Regions from separate parts of the Homo sapiens genome. Here region 2 is linked to region 1. A link means that fine-mapping ties the variant in region 1 to the expression of a gene that starts in the linked region. Tissue or cell type: whole blood. Region 1 holds a variant in brackets; the other region holds the start of a gene. All regions are shown on one strand. Distances are from middle to middle.

Evidence for each region. PIP is the estimated chance that this variant, and not a neighbour inherited with it, causes the effect.
Region 2: CHN1 starts here. The variant in region 1 is fine-mapped to the expression of CHN1 in whole blood (TOPMed, PIP above 0.99).

The regions. Positions count from the first base shown.
Region 1 is chr2:174,774,499-174,782,695 of GRCh38, reverse strand. No RefSeq gene overlaps it. Among named protein-coding and RNA genes, the nearest start is that of CHRNA1, 14 kb to the right of the region's middle. RefSeq lists an enhancer at 42-649. The variant G/A (reference allele first, on the strand shown) is at 4,303.
Region 2 is chr2:175,001,677-175,009,873 of GRCh38, reverse strand. It overlaps CHN1 (chimerin 1), which reads left to right and starts at 4,493. Exons shown (of 13, transcript NM_001822.7): 1 at 4,493-4,980. The coding sequence starts at 4,962. RefSeq lists a silencer at 4,733-4,792 and an enhancer at 4,777-5,323.

The DNA of each region.
Region 1 (8,197 bases):
CACTGCATGTCCTCACTTGCATCAAAATATCTCCAGCTCCCATCCTTAGAACTGTCGCGTGAGCCATCCCTTAGTAATATGATGGTCAACTCCGTGAGGGGATTGAGCTTGTCATATATTGCTGTTCCCAAGCTACCGGTTTGCATTTTAAATGGGTCTTTCTGAAAGCAACGGTGTACTCTTAAAAACATGGCTCCCCCCAGAAGCTGCGTGCCATGAGCCTGATTGTTGGGGCTCTGCAGGGGCCTGCAGGTGTGTGGACGCTTGGATCATACTGAGCAAGGGGCTACCTACCCCCTCTATGCCTGAGACCAACCTGACTTCTAAGGAGATGGTGGAAGGGGAGCAAAGAGAGAGGATACCTCCGCATTTCTGCTCTGGGCCCCGCTCTGTGGGGGCGCAGAGCAAGCTCGCTGTGTTCAGCCCAGCCGCAGTGCCAGCTGGCGAGCTTGCCAGATCTTTCTCTATCCCCCATGCCACCTCCTCCTCTCACCTAAAATGGGAGGAGAGGGGGAGGAAATGCTGCATTTTCCTCCTGTGCTGAATTTATCCCGACTCAGACCGGCTGCGGAAGCCAGGGAGAAGATAAACAAAGAAGTCTTGTTATAATTTTTCAAAAAACTCCCAGTGCTCTGCAGCCCACTCCGTTTTCTTCCTACCTTGCTTAGGGTGGAACTCCGCCTGGCTTCTGCTGCTCTGTCCTGCATCTGAAGGGTGACCTCCTTGCTGGAGACCCTCCTCCTCCGTGTGAGCCCCAGACCCTGGCTGCAGCTTTATTTCACAGGTGGGGACTGAGCTCCGAGGCAGGTGCTTGGCATTTTCTAACCAGTTAACACCCTTGCTGTGGCCATCAGTTGGCCACTAGCTGCACCTGCCTCGCTGTAAACTGGAGAGCAATGGCACAGGACTTTACCTCATGCCCCCTTCCCTCCCTATGGAGGCCCTAAGGAGAGATACAGAAGGAACAACAGCCTGAGGAAGAAAGAGAAGTGAAGTGAAGGGCCTGGATATCCACCAAGCGGAATTTGGTGCTTGGACCAAAGGAGCTGGGCGGTAGGGGCAGGAAAGGACAGCCTCATGAGGGCCAGGCTGTTGTCTCGTTTAGTCTTCATTGTAGTCCGCTGGTGATAAAGAGAGCAATCAGTAGCTTTCCTCCTGGAGAGTGTGGGCTCTGCATCGGAATTCAGGCATCGTGGATATTTACACCTTGCCGTGGGGCACAGGCACATGGTTGAGCTGGGCCAATTAGAGACACACAGACTTAAGTGAGATGCCAGAGCTGAGAGTGGCAGGAACAACGAGGGACCACCATGGCAGGGGGCTGCAGGGGGTGGAACCCTGTGTCCTCAGTGGCCTTGGAGGTAGCTGTTCCCCTACGGTGGCCAGGCCCAGCACCAGCGGTACCCATAGGGGACTGTGATGTCCAGGAACCCACAGCAGGCGTCCCAGAGCCCTCCCGGCCCTAGGCTTCTGGTGTGGTTCTGCCCATGAGCCTGGCTGCGCCAGAGCCCTCCTGCTGTTTTCCAAGCTCACGCTGCAGCCCTCGCTGACTCTGAGCCACCCCATAGCCATTCAATACACTCCTTTTCCACTGAAAAGGCAGATAGTGAGAAACGTTGATCCAATAATAACATGAAGTCCATGAAAGCCTGTGGCTATGAAGAATGCTGAGCCATTGAATCCACCAGAGATAGTAAAGGGGGCCTTGAAATATTCTGAGGCTTGTAGAAGGGTAAAGTAAATACCTAAGGTAATTGTGATGGATACTGCCTGCTGAAAACAGCCCTTGTTCGTTTCTGCTGCTTACATCTGAGAGCTCCAGCTGATTTCCCAGACCCCTGGGCTTTGATTCCAGAGACTTCCACCCTGCTTATCTCCATATGCTTTCCGCCTGTCTGAGGCCAGAGTAGACCCACTACACTTAGATGAACCAAGCATATCACACATCACATAAGAAGGATAAAAGCCTCCAAATCTTGCACCAGCCTCTGCCCTCCTACCCTGACAGCCGCCACTTCTACCAGTGGGGGTTTTCCCACCAATCAGGCGAGTAGGTTGAGGAGAAACCTGTTCTGTGGGCAAGTGAGGACTTCTGAAACAACAAGGCCACCAATCAGGATGAAACTTGATGTCCTGAGAAGCCCCCACACAAGCCTCCTGCGTGGCTTCTGATCGGTTTGATTCTAGCCCTGCTGTTCTAGCTACCTGGTTACTTCTAAATGGGGCTTTTATTACTAAAAGCAAGGTTCCCAGAGCCTGGAGTGTCTTCCAACATTACAATCCACATTGCAATGGTGAATAGTCACCATCATGATCACTCAAAGGCCAGGCAGGTATTTCCTTTTGCACTTGCCCTTTTGCATTGGCATTTTTCTCTCTGCCTAGTCTTTTAGCACCTGCCTGGCAACATTAATTATTTAAAGGGAGGTCAGGGAGGGCCAGAGCATCCCTCTGTGCCTTGAAATTACTAGTTTGCTTCTACTCTCAGGAGAGTCAGAATACAGGATTCCCAAGTCTCTGGGAGAAGGGTCACATAACAAGAAACAAAGGGTTTCTTAAATCCATCCAGATTTGTAGGGAGGGATTTGTGGAGGGACCAAGGGGCTCTACTGGAAATAAGACCTTAGTGACTTCTTTTGAATATCTCTTGGCCTCAGAATAAAGCGATGATGTTCCTAGACCCAGAGGCCTTGAGCAGACAGAAGCTGGCCTCCGACTGTTAATCCTCGAAGTCCTTGTAATTCACCCACAGAAGGGGGCTCTGAAATCAGTGGAACATGTGGGCTCTGAGAGCATCCAGTCTCCTATTGTCCTCAGAATCCCACCTTCCTGATGACATCCAGATGTGTCATCATTCCACGGGTCTGATTAGCTGTAGAATGTGGTATTTCCGTGTTTCCAGGATTCATCTGAGTTAACTCTGCTGCTAATTGGATTTGTATCTGGCAGTGGTAACATCAAAAAAAAAAAAAAAGGTTTTGTAGTCAATTAGGTTTCCCTGGAACACACAGGAAGGGGTTGTCCTGTCAGCGCTGAGGTGTCTCTACCTTAATGAGCTGCCCCAGACAAAGGCACAAAAGGACATTATCAACCCTGAGTACCTGTCTTTAGTGGCTTCTGTTGAACAGGAAACTGAGCTGGATCTGGGCACATGCGAGCTGGCTTTACTGCACTCTCAAATCGCCTACTTCCCTGGGAACACATCTGAGTGTGATCAGGTGCATTAGAGCCACTTTAAAAAATCATCCCCAAGGAAATGAAATGCACAAATGGTATTCCTGCAGCCTAATGACCCAGGGCTTGGTTTAACTGCACCAAAGGCAGGAAATGGCCACATACGAAGCCAGTTACAGCCCCCACTGCCCCCATAACCAAGCCACATGGCACACACCTGGAGGAAGGGAAGTGGAATTCTTCCTGCAAGGTTTTTTTCGGGTCTAGAACAAATTATTCTTCAAATGTCTTAACATCCTGAGTGTGGGTGGAAGTGATGCTTAGTTATATCTTATGGGAAAGATGGCGTGTTTTAGAGAAGAATCATCTAGCTGGCTGGGGACTGCAGGAAGGGCCGATGGTCACTGAGGGAAAACAGCAAGGCCTTGGCTTTTTTTTCCCTTTGGGTCTTGATGGGTCAAGTTCTGCCACTTTTTTAGAATACTGGGGGTTTCCAATCTCTGCCCCAAAGATCTGGAGGCACTTCCTGCTCGAAGAGAACTGGAAAGGCAGGGAGAGTTCCATATTCGTCACTCAGCAGCAGTCACACTGCCAGGACTGGGAGTGGTCTGGGAGGAAGTGGGCTCTCTCTGGGACAGTGGGGAGCCCCAAGAGGAGTGACCTTGTGAGGAGGTGGCTTCAGTCACAGACAGTGGTGGGAGTGAGCCAGGCTGTGGTCAGTCCGTGGTGAGGAGGGATTCCATCTAGGGGCGGGCAGCGCCCAGCATGTGCTGTGCCAGGCCAGCCCCTGGGCCTGAGGTCAGCCTATGCTGTGTTTGCCTTCAGGATCCCATGACCCTTCTGTAAATGTGACGCAACGTGGTCCAACCACTGCTGCTATGGGAACTGGAACTGCACATTTCCTGCCTTTCATCTTCAGCGTGTTAGGAACGAATATGTCAAAATAAGCAAACCACAGCACCATCACTGGGGCGAGGGGCAGGGCTGTGGCTCTGGGGGAGCAGAGAGGGCTCCAAGCAAGCTGTGCCAAGAGAAAAGCCTGGGGCATGTTTTCTGCCCACACCAGGCCAAGCGAGTCTTCTGCTGGCCGAGGACAGGGGTGTTGCTCAGTCAAGGTGCACAGCCTGT[G/A]TGGGGACATGTGCTATGGTTGTCAGAACCCAGCTAATTCTGGGTTCTTTCTGGATGATGCTGGGAAAGCTTCGCTGTGGAATTTTATCATTTGCTGGAGAGCATGAGGCCCTCCCTTGATCTCCTGCCATAGTGGGATTCTGGAGAAAAGCCGGGCTTTGACAAGGCAAATTCAGAGAGCATAAATGCAGACCATGAACACAGCAAGCATAACTTTTGGGTGATGACACTGATCTTTAAAAAATCAAGTATGTTAGAATTTATGTCCCAAAGTGGGGTATCCTTGTGGCATCTCCTTGGGGATGGCAGGGAAGAAGGAAAGGGTGTGCACTTACCCTATTCCAATCCAGGTGGAAGAACTGCCTTATTAAACTGTGAGAACATTCAGACACCAAATACAGAGATGGTCCCAGATCTTTGCAGAGCCCAGCATTGCCTGGCTTGCTGAATGTTCTCCTTAATCCCAGTTTGCTTTCTCTCTCTAGCCCCCACCCTACCCCACATCTTCACTGCATCCGCACAGCAGGCAGCCAGGCTTTTCCTTCAGCCTCTCATCCCTGAAGGCACGGACGGCTCTTTCTCCCAGACACCAGGCCCAGTGTAAAGATTCAGGCCACATCAACACCCAGGAAGCTCCCTCATATGTCTCCCTTGGGTCTCTGACAACAACCTCCTATTTCTAAAACCTGCTTCCCAGTTCTGTCTTTGAATTGTTCTCTCCCGATTCCCTTGCTCTCACTTTCTAAGCTTGCTTCCTCTGGCTCTTTCTTTGCCCTTCCTAAGCCATATGGGAGGGGGGCAGATGATCTGTCTCTGTCTCAGGGAGGAATTTCCATCTGCAAAGTATCAGTCTTTATACATATGGTACAAGAATGAGCTCTGGTTTAGGACAAAAAGGGATACACAAATGCTGTGTCACTGGCAGGCTGGGGATGCTTGTCACAGAGCCAGGCACTAGGAACAAGTCCTTACTTAAGGTGACCATTCTAATCAACGACAGGGTCCTCCTTAACCAACACCATGCCAATTCACCTTCAGAATTGAAATGAGCACAGAAGTACATGCCTGCAAATTTTTCAAGTATTTTTCTCTAGGAAATATGAGCCAAAGATCAGGCTCTGGGACTGATATTTATATTTTGAAGAGGTAGAACTTGAGGGGCCCTCTGAGAGGGGTCAGCAGCTTCGACCTTAATGCAGGATTAATTGCATCAGGTCTGGAACTGGCCTGGCTAAAGCAAAGACTATCACAGCCCCACCTCAAATTAGGGATGCCTTCTGGTGCATCTCTTCCCACCCAAAACGTATCCTGAAAGCCCCCATCCTAGGAGCAAGGAGGAAAACACTGGGACAGCAGCCGTTTGTCCAGGACAAGGGGGGGCCTAGTCATCCTCTGACCCTTCAGTTCAGTGAGACTCTCATGCTCAGAAAGGTTTCTCATGACTGCCTGGGCTCCTCATGTTTCTAAGAAAGGGGGTGCGGGGTGGGAAGAGGATAGAGCCAAGGCTGTGTGTGCTGTTTTACAAGTCATCACAAGGAAGCTGAAAGGGCCCTGGAATCCTATCTCCTGCTATCTTGGCTCAGGTTCTCAGCATGAGCCAAAGCTGCCTTTATTGTTTTTGAAACGAAAAACAAGCATCATAAAGTTAACTTTCACCACAACAACTTTAAGTACTTCTGAAAACAATTTTACAGAAAAACAGAAAAGAACCAGACTGCACAAAATTGGTGCAACCACTAAGAAAGAAAACAGGTTTTATTCCTTTGATATTTTGCACAGATCGGGAGGAGGGGATAAAGGCATTGCATAGAGTTCAGTTAGGAGGCTGAATATCTGCAGCCTTATGGAATTTCCCAATTCCAGCAGGACACGAGCCCTCTGAAGGGCACTGTCTCTGATTTTGCTGGAGGACATCTCACTTTGGCTGAATTCTTCCCCTTATACCGTCATCCCTTGGAGCTGCACTCCTCAAAAGTGACTGCTGGTGGCGCTGTAACAGCAGCGGATGAATGCATCCTCCAGGGGCACAGGGATTGCTCAAAGGGGCCACAGATAGACAGCACTCATCTTTGAGGTCTGATATTTTAAGCATTCATGTGAATTTTGCATTCATATTTATTTTCACAGAAAGATCAAACTTTATATTGTTCATTGGTTGAACTCGTCTATAGTCCTGGCAGTGGACCACATAAAGACAGGAACTGGAAATGTGGACCAAAGTCAAGGGCAGAAACTCTCTCACAGGACTAGGACTGGACCTGAGCAAGACTGTGTCACCACACTGGGCAGGTGAGGGGCAATGGGTGCAGTGGGGGGTGATAAATGGTGATCCTAGTCAAAGGCAGGGACTCAGGCACCAGGAGCTGAGAGGTGCCACGACCAGGTCTGGAGAGTAACCTGGACAGCTCTGGGAGGATGCTCTCAGGACTCAGGGACCTCCTGGCCAGTGCGGCTTAGCTGAGGAAAGAGGAACTTCCTCAATGGCCCCGCCCATGCTGAGCTCACCCATGCTTCTCAGGATCTCACCTGACAACAGGATGAGTCCCCTTCCCTTGGGTTGGAGGCTTCCTGTTCCTTCTTGAACAGTCCCTGGAGTTCCTATGCAATGACAGGGGACTTTGACATGAGATGGGAGTAGGCTTTGGACTGCCTCACCCAGAAGCCAGGTGAGGCTCCGTCCCAACACTTCTCAGGATGAGTGTCATCACATTTTTTTCTCAGCCGGTTTCTGGCTGGAAATCTGACAGCTAAGCAGTCATACTTCTGGGTTTACACGCTGTTATTCTATCACTGAAAGTATTCAACAACATTTGGGTTTTAGTCATAACATAGCTAATGCATAATTTTGTTTGCTTTGCAGCCAATTAAATAAAGAATTGGAGCACATTAAATAAATGGTTAAATCGATTAATTTATATTTTTCCAAATCCTCAAGTAAAATTGAAGCTCCAGGCAGATGCACTATGTTTACTCAGGAGCTCCAGGCCTCCCACCCGGGGACTGCCAATGTGCCCAGAACTGTGACAAAACTAAGCTAGTACCACTAATGCATTGATTGAGCCAGAGCACACAGAAGGGACTTGTAGAAGTTGGCAATTTAAACAGTACTGATCATGGCCATATAATAGGCTAACAAGGCTAATGTACTTAAAATAGTATGACAGATGAAGTAGTGCTTGAATAAAATTCAGCCTTAACTAGCCAATCTTTAAAAGTCTAGCTAGATAATTAGGGAGCTGACACACATGTTTTAATTTGTTGTAAGGCCTCTGTAACAAAGAGAGAAGGTAAAACGTCATAAATATTCAACACATCTACACTCTTTCCACTGAACTACAGAACACTAAATCATTCTGTCACATACAAGGCCCATCCTCCTCACCCGTAATTAGCGAAGCATTCCCAAGACCAAATTACATAGTACTTAAGAAAATTATGAAAATGAGAATGTAAACAGTATCACATTTGACCACAGCACTTGTCAAACATACCCTGCATATCACGGGCTTTCTCTAAAGAAACCTGTTCGTGCATTTATTAGTGTCAAAAGACAAAGTTACAACAGATTTAATTTAAAGATCTTAATTGGCTTTTATTTGCAAATCTAGAATATCGGGCAACACCTCATTCTACAAAATAGAATGAATGTTCCCATGAGCCGAGCAAAGGATGTTGGTTTTATGGTCAGAAAATGGTTGAGGAAAGCAGAAACGGAGAACAAAAAGCAGATTGGTTGTTTCCAAGTTACTTTCTTTGGAAAGTTTGAAGCAGAGGGGCCTTCCTATCATGCCAGCAAAAACTGGCCTGTTTGGGGATTGGGCTGTTATCTCCCTGTCTTTCTTGATTTCTTGGAAGATCGGATAAACAACTCAGTTTTGGCTTGGTGGTGTGAACT
Region 2 (8,197 bases), 230 kb before region 1:
AGAAGGGGGGTAAAAAATAATCGGAATTAAGTGTTTAAGGAAAACGTTGTTAAAAACAAACCAAATAGTCTAGGCGCGGTGGCTCATGCCTGTAATCCCAGCACTTTGGGAGGCCAAGGCAGGTGGATCACTTGAGGTCAGGAGTTCAAGACCAGCCTGGTCAACATGGTGAAACCAATTTCTACTAAAAAATACAAAAAGTTAACCAGGTGTGGTGGCTCATGCCTGTAATCCCAGCTACTCAGGAGGCTGAGGCAGGAGAATCACTTGAACCTGGGAGGCAGAGATTGCAGTCAGCTCTGAGATTACTGCACTCCAGCCTGGGTGACACAGTGAAACTCCGTCTAAAAAAAAAAAAACAAAAAACCAAACAGACCAAATAGCTGGATACAGTGGCTCATGCCTGCAATCACAGCACTTTGGGGAGGCTGAGAGGAGTGGATTGCTTGAGCTCAGGAGTTCCAGACCAGCCTGGGCAACATGGCAAACCCTGTCTCTACTAAAAATACAAAAATTAGCCGAGTGTGGTGGCATGCACCTGTGGTTCCAGCTACTCCAGAGGCTGGGGTAGGAGGATTGCTAGAGCCCACGAACTCAAGGCTGCAGGGAGCTGAGATTGTGCCACTGCATTCCAGCCTGGGTGACAGAGTGAGACCCTGTCTCAAAACAAAAACAAATCCACTTTAAACAAATTCACACAGTGGAAACAAACACTGTAACTAGTAACATAAATATGGGATAGAGAGAATGTCACATATTGTGAATATTTAAATAATTTTAACTTTCTTAATTTTAACTTTAGCAGAAGTATACTGTGTAACATTTTTCTCTTCACTAGCAAACTTCTGCACTATTTTGGGAACTGTGCTAATAGCACTGGTATTCCTAGTGTTTAAAGCTGTGTTGACATGACAAAGTACTATAATTTTAACTTGTTATTGTGAGGCAGAAACCGCCTCATTAATTTCTGCTTCATTGAAAACTGAGGAACAAATCAATGTTTACCAATGGGAATGAAGCTAAATGGGTAACAAAAAGAAATTCAAAACACTTGTGATAAGTCATTAGTTTAAAATGTAGGAAAACCATTTTAAAGGGTTGTCTAGGTTCTGTTTAGTCAACAAAACTTAAATAAAAATGAGAAATTGTTTTAGTAAATTTGAAATGGGTTGTTCAGTGCACACTTTTAATTTTAATCCTGTTAAACCAGAAAAAGGTTGCTTTCTACATGATTAATATAACATTATTAGTACAACACATTGCAGAAGAAATAGCAGTACCACTGGTTTGACAAAATATGACTTCTTTATTACATTAGGTATTTATGAACTTTAGATATAACAGCACTTTAAATATATTGAAGATTCAAATAAAAATGTCCTCTGTTTTATCCATAAACCAGTTAATTTAAAGATTTTAAAATATCACACAATGACAGATAAACCTAAAAGGGACATTAGAGATACCTTAGTACCATCCTTTCATTTTACAAAGGAGGAAGATAAGAACTAGAAACAGTAAAACATTTGTCTAAAAATCTGACAGCTAGTTAGTAACGAATAAACAAATCTGGCTCTTCTAAGCACTTGCATGTTAAGCACAAAATGAAATCATTGAATGAAAACATAAATATTTTGAGAAGTCAATTCATTCTTTGCCCTTCTTTTATAAACAATCTAAGTCACCACCCGTAATAATCACCTCCAAGCAGTTAACGCCCTTCCTTGCATTGACTCTGTAGCTGAAAGGCTGTGGCTTTATTTTCAGCTAAGTGAGAAAAGAAGCACATGCAATAGAATAGGAATAGCTCATTGAAAAAAATACGCTATTTTAAAAGCCAATACTATTTCCAAGACAGGCACTTTGATCAAGTATAGAGAGCATTTTGTTAGAGCATCAAACCATTTGGAAGTCAGTTGAAAGGAATGGCTCGTGGAAAGCAGGATGCTTTAAAGGGAAACATAGCAACATTCACACTGTTTTGTTCCAAATTGTACCTTAAAAACAGCTGTGTGTGTGTGTGTGTACGTGGGTGTGCGAGTAGAAAGGGGAGAGGAAAAGGATCTTCACTTGAGTTTAAGCAGGGTATTTCACTAGGATTCAGTTGTATTTGGCCAAACTAGTGAGTGGAAAGCTGGTCTAGTAACCAAAGGCCGGCTGTATGATGGGAGGGTAAATCTGAGTGCAGGGCAGCTCCTTTCTCTCTGTCTCACTCCCAGGACAACCCCTCAAGGGATGGAGAGAGCTACTAGCAAGCTGAGCTGCAGCACCAAAACCTTGATGCTCTAACAGAGCTTAACAAAGAGGAGAGAAAGGCATTGTTTCTCTTTTAGCATGATGGGACACATAGTTCTGAGTAGAAGGGCATGTTAATAAAAACTCTTTGAGACAAAATGCAACTTCCCAAACTCTATGCAGAATGGCTAAGGACAAAATACTCTCGTTATTTTGCTTCTAATACTAAACAGATTTTTCTTTTGAAATTCAAACCATGCAACCTCTAAATTGATGCGGGATGTGGGTAGGGAAGGTGGTCGGTGAGAACACCAGAAATCTAAGATTTTCCCATTGGTTCTGCTACTAAATAGGTGAACACATTTGGGAAAATCTTTTTACGGGGAACTCAATTTTTTTACCTATAAATCATGGGAGTTTTGGTCTTTTCCTATTCAAAATTCAATGGTTCTATTCTGAAGGAAAATATTTTCCTTTAAATTATAAAGGCAAAAACTTTCTGAGATTACAAAAAACACTTCCAGGGGCTCACCTAAGGTCCCTGAATAGCCCATAATCCCCTTGAAATTATGTGAAAAATTTCCGGTGAATGTGTGTATGTATGCAAGCACTTTTCTAAGAGGAGGGACAGTATTTTCATTAGAGCCTCAAAAGGAAATTTGGTCCAAAAATGTTGAAGACCACTAGTTGAAACAGTAAATGGAGTCTTCGGTTTCTGATTTATTTGGCTGCAGAGCAGATTAGCAGCAATCTTTATATGGTTATAAAATCTATCCCACAAAGCTTTCTTGAGTTTCTCATTTATTTTCATGAGCTGTGTGTTTGTAATTTTTTATGAGCAGAAAGGTTGTTCAAAATCAAGAGTCCATTTTCATGAAAGATTTTAAATTCTGGGGATTTTAAAGATGTATTTTGATTAGTGGCTAAAGAGAGCCATTTTACATCACAAAATTCCAAACATATAGCATCTTAAACACTTGCCCATTCATGTTGAATCATTTTAATATTTCTTTCTTCCTGAGTTAACTGACTTGAAACAAAAGGCTTGGCTCCTCCTTCCAACCTGCTTTTCTTCTGATGCTTAAGTCTGCTTTGAAATAATGATGGTGAATTAACTGTGGTTCCATTGGAAGTACTGTAGTAATCTCCCACTTTATCAGGATTCGATCTCTAAGATACATTAAATACAAGATATTTCTATAATATTCTTAAAGAATTATTTGAAAATGGGAGAGAAGACACTAGGGAACCTGAGGAACTAAGAGGAAAGACGCCTGTAGAAAGAAAGGAGAACCAAAGAGAAGATCTACATGATCAGATACCAAAATAGTATCAAATCCCTAAGCAGAGAAACAAGAAAAAAGAAGGAATTTCTTAAACAGGGAACACATATAGCAACTAGAGAAGAATGACTTTTTGAATACATTAAACGACAACGACGAAAAACATATAACCCAGCTTTTCAAGAACATCTTTTGGCTGACAATCTCAAGGCGTTGTATGGCTCCTCATGGCAGAGACAGAGGTGAGGAGACAACATCACAGAAAGGAGGACGTTGCCAGTGATTATCAGATAAATACAAGAAGCTCAGGGGAACAATCTTTTGTGGCAAATAAGTGCCAGTCAGTGACACATGCTGATTTTTTTTTCCTTGAGACAATATCAAAGAGGTATAATGTAAAGGGAAGAAAATCAGGTGTAAGCATTGGTCTTTTAACAAATTATCTTAGGTAATCTCAGATGCTTTTTAAGCGACTCCTTTTCCTAATGTGTGTCAATTTCATCAGAACTACTAGCAGCTCCTAAGTCCAAACGGAGAGGAATGCAGCTTTCAGTGCCTCTGTTCCTACCAGAGCCCTGCAGCTTCAGGTCACCGGCTCCAGCCACAGTGAGCCTGGAGGGCGCCAGGAGAAGAAATATGTTCTCACACGCACCAGGTCCCCAGATGACCCTGCCTGGGCGCTGCGTTCACTCAGCATCCTCCTGTGACTCTTCCTCTTTCGAGTAACAGCGTTTTTCTCCTCTCTGCGCCTCCTCAAATTCCATTCAAGAAAAAACCTGGGCTTTCAGCTAAAACGCACACCGGCCCCGCTCCATCCCGCTCCGGGCGGCCGCCTCCAGGGGGGCGCTGGTGGCTCCTCGCAGCCGCGGGAATGAGGGCGCACCCTCTTACCCCCGCGCGCGCCCGTTGCCATGGGAACGCACTCGACCGGGAAGCCCGAGGGAGAGGCGGGAGGCAGCGGCGCGGCCGAGCTCGTGGGAGACGCTATCGCAAGATGGCGTCTGCGAGGCCGCGGGATGCGGAGTGAGCGCGCCCCGCCGGGGGCTGTGCGAGGCTGCTGCTGCTCTCCCCGTCGCCGCCGCCGCCGCCGCCAGTGCGGCGCCGCCTCTCCGCCAGCCACTGCGCCGCGGCCAAGCCTCCTGCCTCGCAGGTACCTCCTCCCGCGCGCACGCTCCGCGCCTGATGGCAGCGACAAGTGCCGGCTCGCGGAGAGCTAGCGGGGCTCCCTGGGCCCGGTGCGCCCGACAATAACGCGTGAATAACTTTTTCTTGCAGCGGTCCCCCGCGTCCCGGCCTGCAGCCTCCCCGGGCGCCGGCGCCCCCAGCACGCCCCATCGGGCACCCCACTCTCTCCGAGGTGTGGGTGCGGCGGGCTGATGAGGTGATCCCTAGCCCGCCTGGGAGGAGCGCCTGGACTCGCGGGCGGCGGCGAGCGCCTTTACAATGGCCCTGACCCTGTTTGGTAAGTGCAGCCGTCTCCCCGCGCCGCCGCAGGTGGGCCGCGTCCCGGGGCTCGGGGGCGGGGGCCTGGGGGGCCTGGGCGCCCGGGGAGGGGGCGCGGCGCGTGGGGTCGGGGCGGGCCGGGGCCGCAGAGTTGGGGCGCCCGGGGCGCCGGCTTGCTCCCTCGCGCCTCTCCCATTGTTTCCTCTCCCGGCAGGGCCGATGGGCGTGTGCTCCCCTGGCCAATTCTCGGCTGGGAGGCTCAGAGGTCCTGGGTGTTTTGCAAACGCACAAAGATTCTCTAAGATGCCAACTTGGGAGTGAAGTTAACTGGTTGTTTTCAAACCTGCCTTTCCCGTCGGTAAATAAATCCTTGGAAAGTTTATTTATTTTGAACGAGGTATCTGTGAGTCCCCAGCCTCCTTGGAATTGCCAAATGCATGTGTTGCTTCCTGTTGGACTATTGGGGAATTTTTTTTTTGGACTCAGTATATTCCGTTGGAAATAAGTATGATTTGTGAACTGAATATGGGTTAAAATTGAAAATGTTTGCACTAACGAATGAGAGCAGACAGAATAAAGTTGGTTACCAGAAGATAACTGTAATCTCAGGAGACTGAGTATTCATTAAGAATGAAATGTTATTTTTGTGGTGTAATTACTGCAGCACTGTTGCTTTTGGTGGTTAAGACTTCAAGCTGTTTTTTTCTCAGTCTGCAATGACAATGGGTTGGGAAAAAGGACTGAAAAGATACATTCTTTCCTTTTACAAAACGACTATGGTACATACGTACCTGACTTTAAGAAAACTCAATATGTGAACATTAGACGTTCAAAGTATTCAGCTTTTTTGAAGAAGCAAAGTACAATGATATGTAATTGATAGCTACGAGAACAGCCTAAGTAAGTTATTCACAATATCAAGTTTCCAGTTCAGTTTTAATTATGTCATTTGATCAAACACGTTAGAGGTGTTACATACCTCAAATGCTTTTTGAGGTAAATACTTCCCAGTGAATTAAGCTGCTAGAATCAAAGTGTTACTTTTATTTAACTATCTTATTTTATAAATTAAACTTAGACCCAGAGAGGTTGTTTCCCAAAGTCACATGGCTCTTTTGTGGCAAAACTGAGCCTAGAATTCACTTCACCAGGCTTCAGTCTGGGACTGTGTTTACTGTGCCCAAGTGCATTACTAGAAGTGCCATTTCTTACTTGGTGATGATCCTCCATAGGTACTTTAAAAAAGTGTCTTCTTTTTCTGAAAAATAATAAAATTCTCGCTGTTTCTCAGTACCTTGTATCTAAGCATTATTTAATAGCAGCATTTTCCTTAAATGTGGACCTTTTTGGTACAAACATTTTCTTTCCTAAAGAGATATTTGGCATTTTCAAGGTGTGGTTTCAGAAGTAAGGTTTACAAGTCAACTTTTCAAATACTCGCATTCCTGACGAATAAAAAAGATAAATTGGGGTGAAAAATGCTCTTTTAAAAGGATTTCTAAATTCTAAATCTTTAACCACTGTGGTGAAGATGAGGAAGGGAAAAGCATGGAATGTGGCCTATAGAAGAAAGTATAAGAAATCACTCCCAGCCTTCAAAATGAATAATGTATCTTTAAAATTTTAAAGTCTACTTATGGGAAAATAGAATTCACTTCCCAAAATCCAGTTTGTTACAGTGTGAACGTTTCTGTGTTATAAAACAAAGCACTCTTGAGTGCAGAGGCTATTTGTTAAGTAGTGATAGAGCAGCAGCTGTTTTTAAAAGTGGTTGTACACCACTCATCAGTCATCTGGGATGTCTATTAAAAATGTAGATTCTTTTGCCCAAAGACATGGGGGAAGGGGATTTTAAAGTGACTCCCTTTGTGATTCTTATGCTCACTCAAGTTTGAGAACTGTTGTATTCAAGATAAATGCTAGGAGATTGGGTCAAACTCGCCCAATACAAAATAGCTTTTTGTGTATGTTGAGAGATGTACCTAAGGGTTAGAAGAAATGGATTTTATTTTAGATTTTACTACCTTTAACTAGTTGGTCTTAGTCAGAAGTGCCTCATGTCCCTTCATATTTACTCTTAATGACCAACTTAGAACAGAAGAGCAATGGAGCAATAAAGTTCTGTGAGATGGTAGTGAAAAGAGTTAGAGGCAGGGACCTAACCAGATCAACAGGATTTGTCAGAGCTCAGCAGAGTTTATACCTGAGGCTCCCCAGAGTAACGACTGCCAGGGCCCTATCTTTTGTATCTTGGTTGATTAGTTAGTGCAGTCCAGCAGTAGAGTCTAGACTAGTTATTTGCTTTGTGTTTTACATTTTCTTTCCATTCAGGCTTTTTATAAATTTAAGAAATGTTCTTTTTATAGGGAGTTGGTGACTTAGTTTTAAAAAGTGGAGCCTCTAACATTACCTGATTTTGTATTTGCATACATTTAATTTTTTTCACCTGTTAAGTATATTATAGGAACTCGAATACTTGTTAAATTAAGCTGAATAGTTAAGACTGTTTTATCTCTCATCCTCACTGTTAATCACCTTTGCTGCTTAACATATTTTTAATGCATATTAGTTTTATTTTGGGATAGAAGAACCAGACCCCAATCTTGAAAGATTTTACAGTCTCATTTGGGAATTGAAAATGTGCATTTTTGAAAGCTTAAGAATTTGCACCCGTTTTTCTTCTCCTTTCAAATGAACTCACATCTCATTATCAGCTTCGATATAGTTTTTAAATCCCCCAATTTCAAAAATTATCCAAATGTATTACAGACTCTGCTCGCTCACCTTGCTCATTTTTTCAGCAAACATCTGTCACAGCGTACAAGAGACATGGTCCTCTAGTGGCACTTCAGAGTCTTTTCTAGAACTATAGCGAATGCACCTAATTCACTAATTACCTAATTCCGTATAGTGAGTGGCACTTAACTATTAACTAATTCCGTATAGGCTTTGTGAGAACTTCCTTAGTAGAGAGCACATGTTTTCTAGTAATTACTGGGATAAAAGGAAAGTCTCAGATCCTTGAATATGGGAATTTGTGGCTGGTGTACCTGACAAAATGTCCTGATTGGCCACACCAATAGAGCCTTAGTTGGCAGAGCTGGGTGAATAAGCATTCTGCCAGCTCTTGCCTTGGCAGGAATCTCTGTCATTTATAGCTTAATGGGGCTGTGGTTTATAGCCCAGACCAACTGATGCGATTGGGAACTCAGTTACCGTCGGCTGGGCTGGCTGAA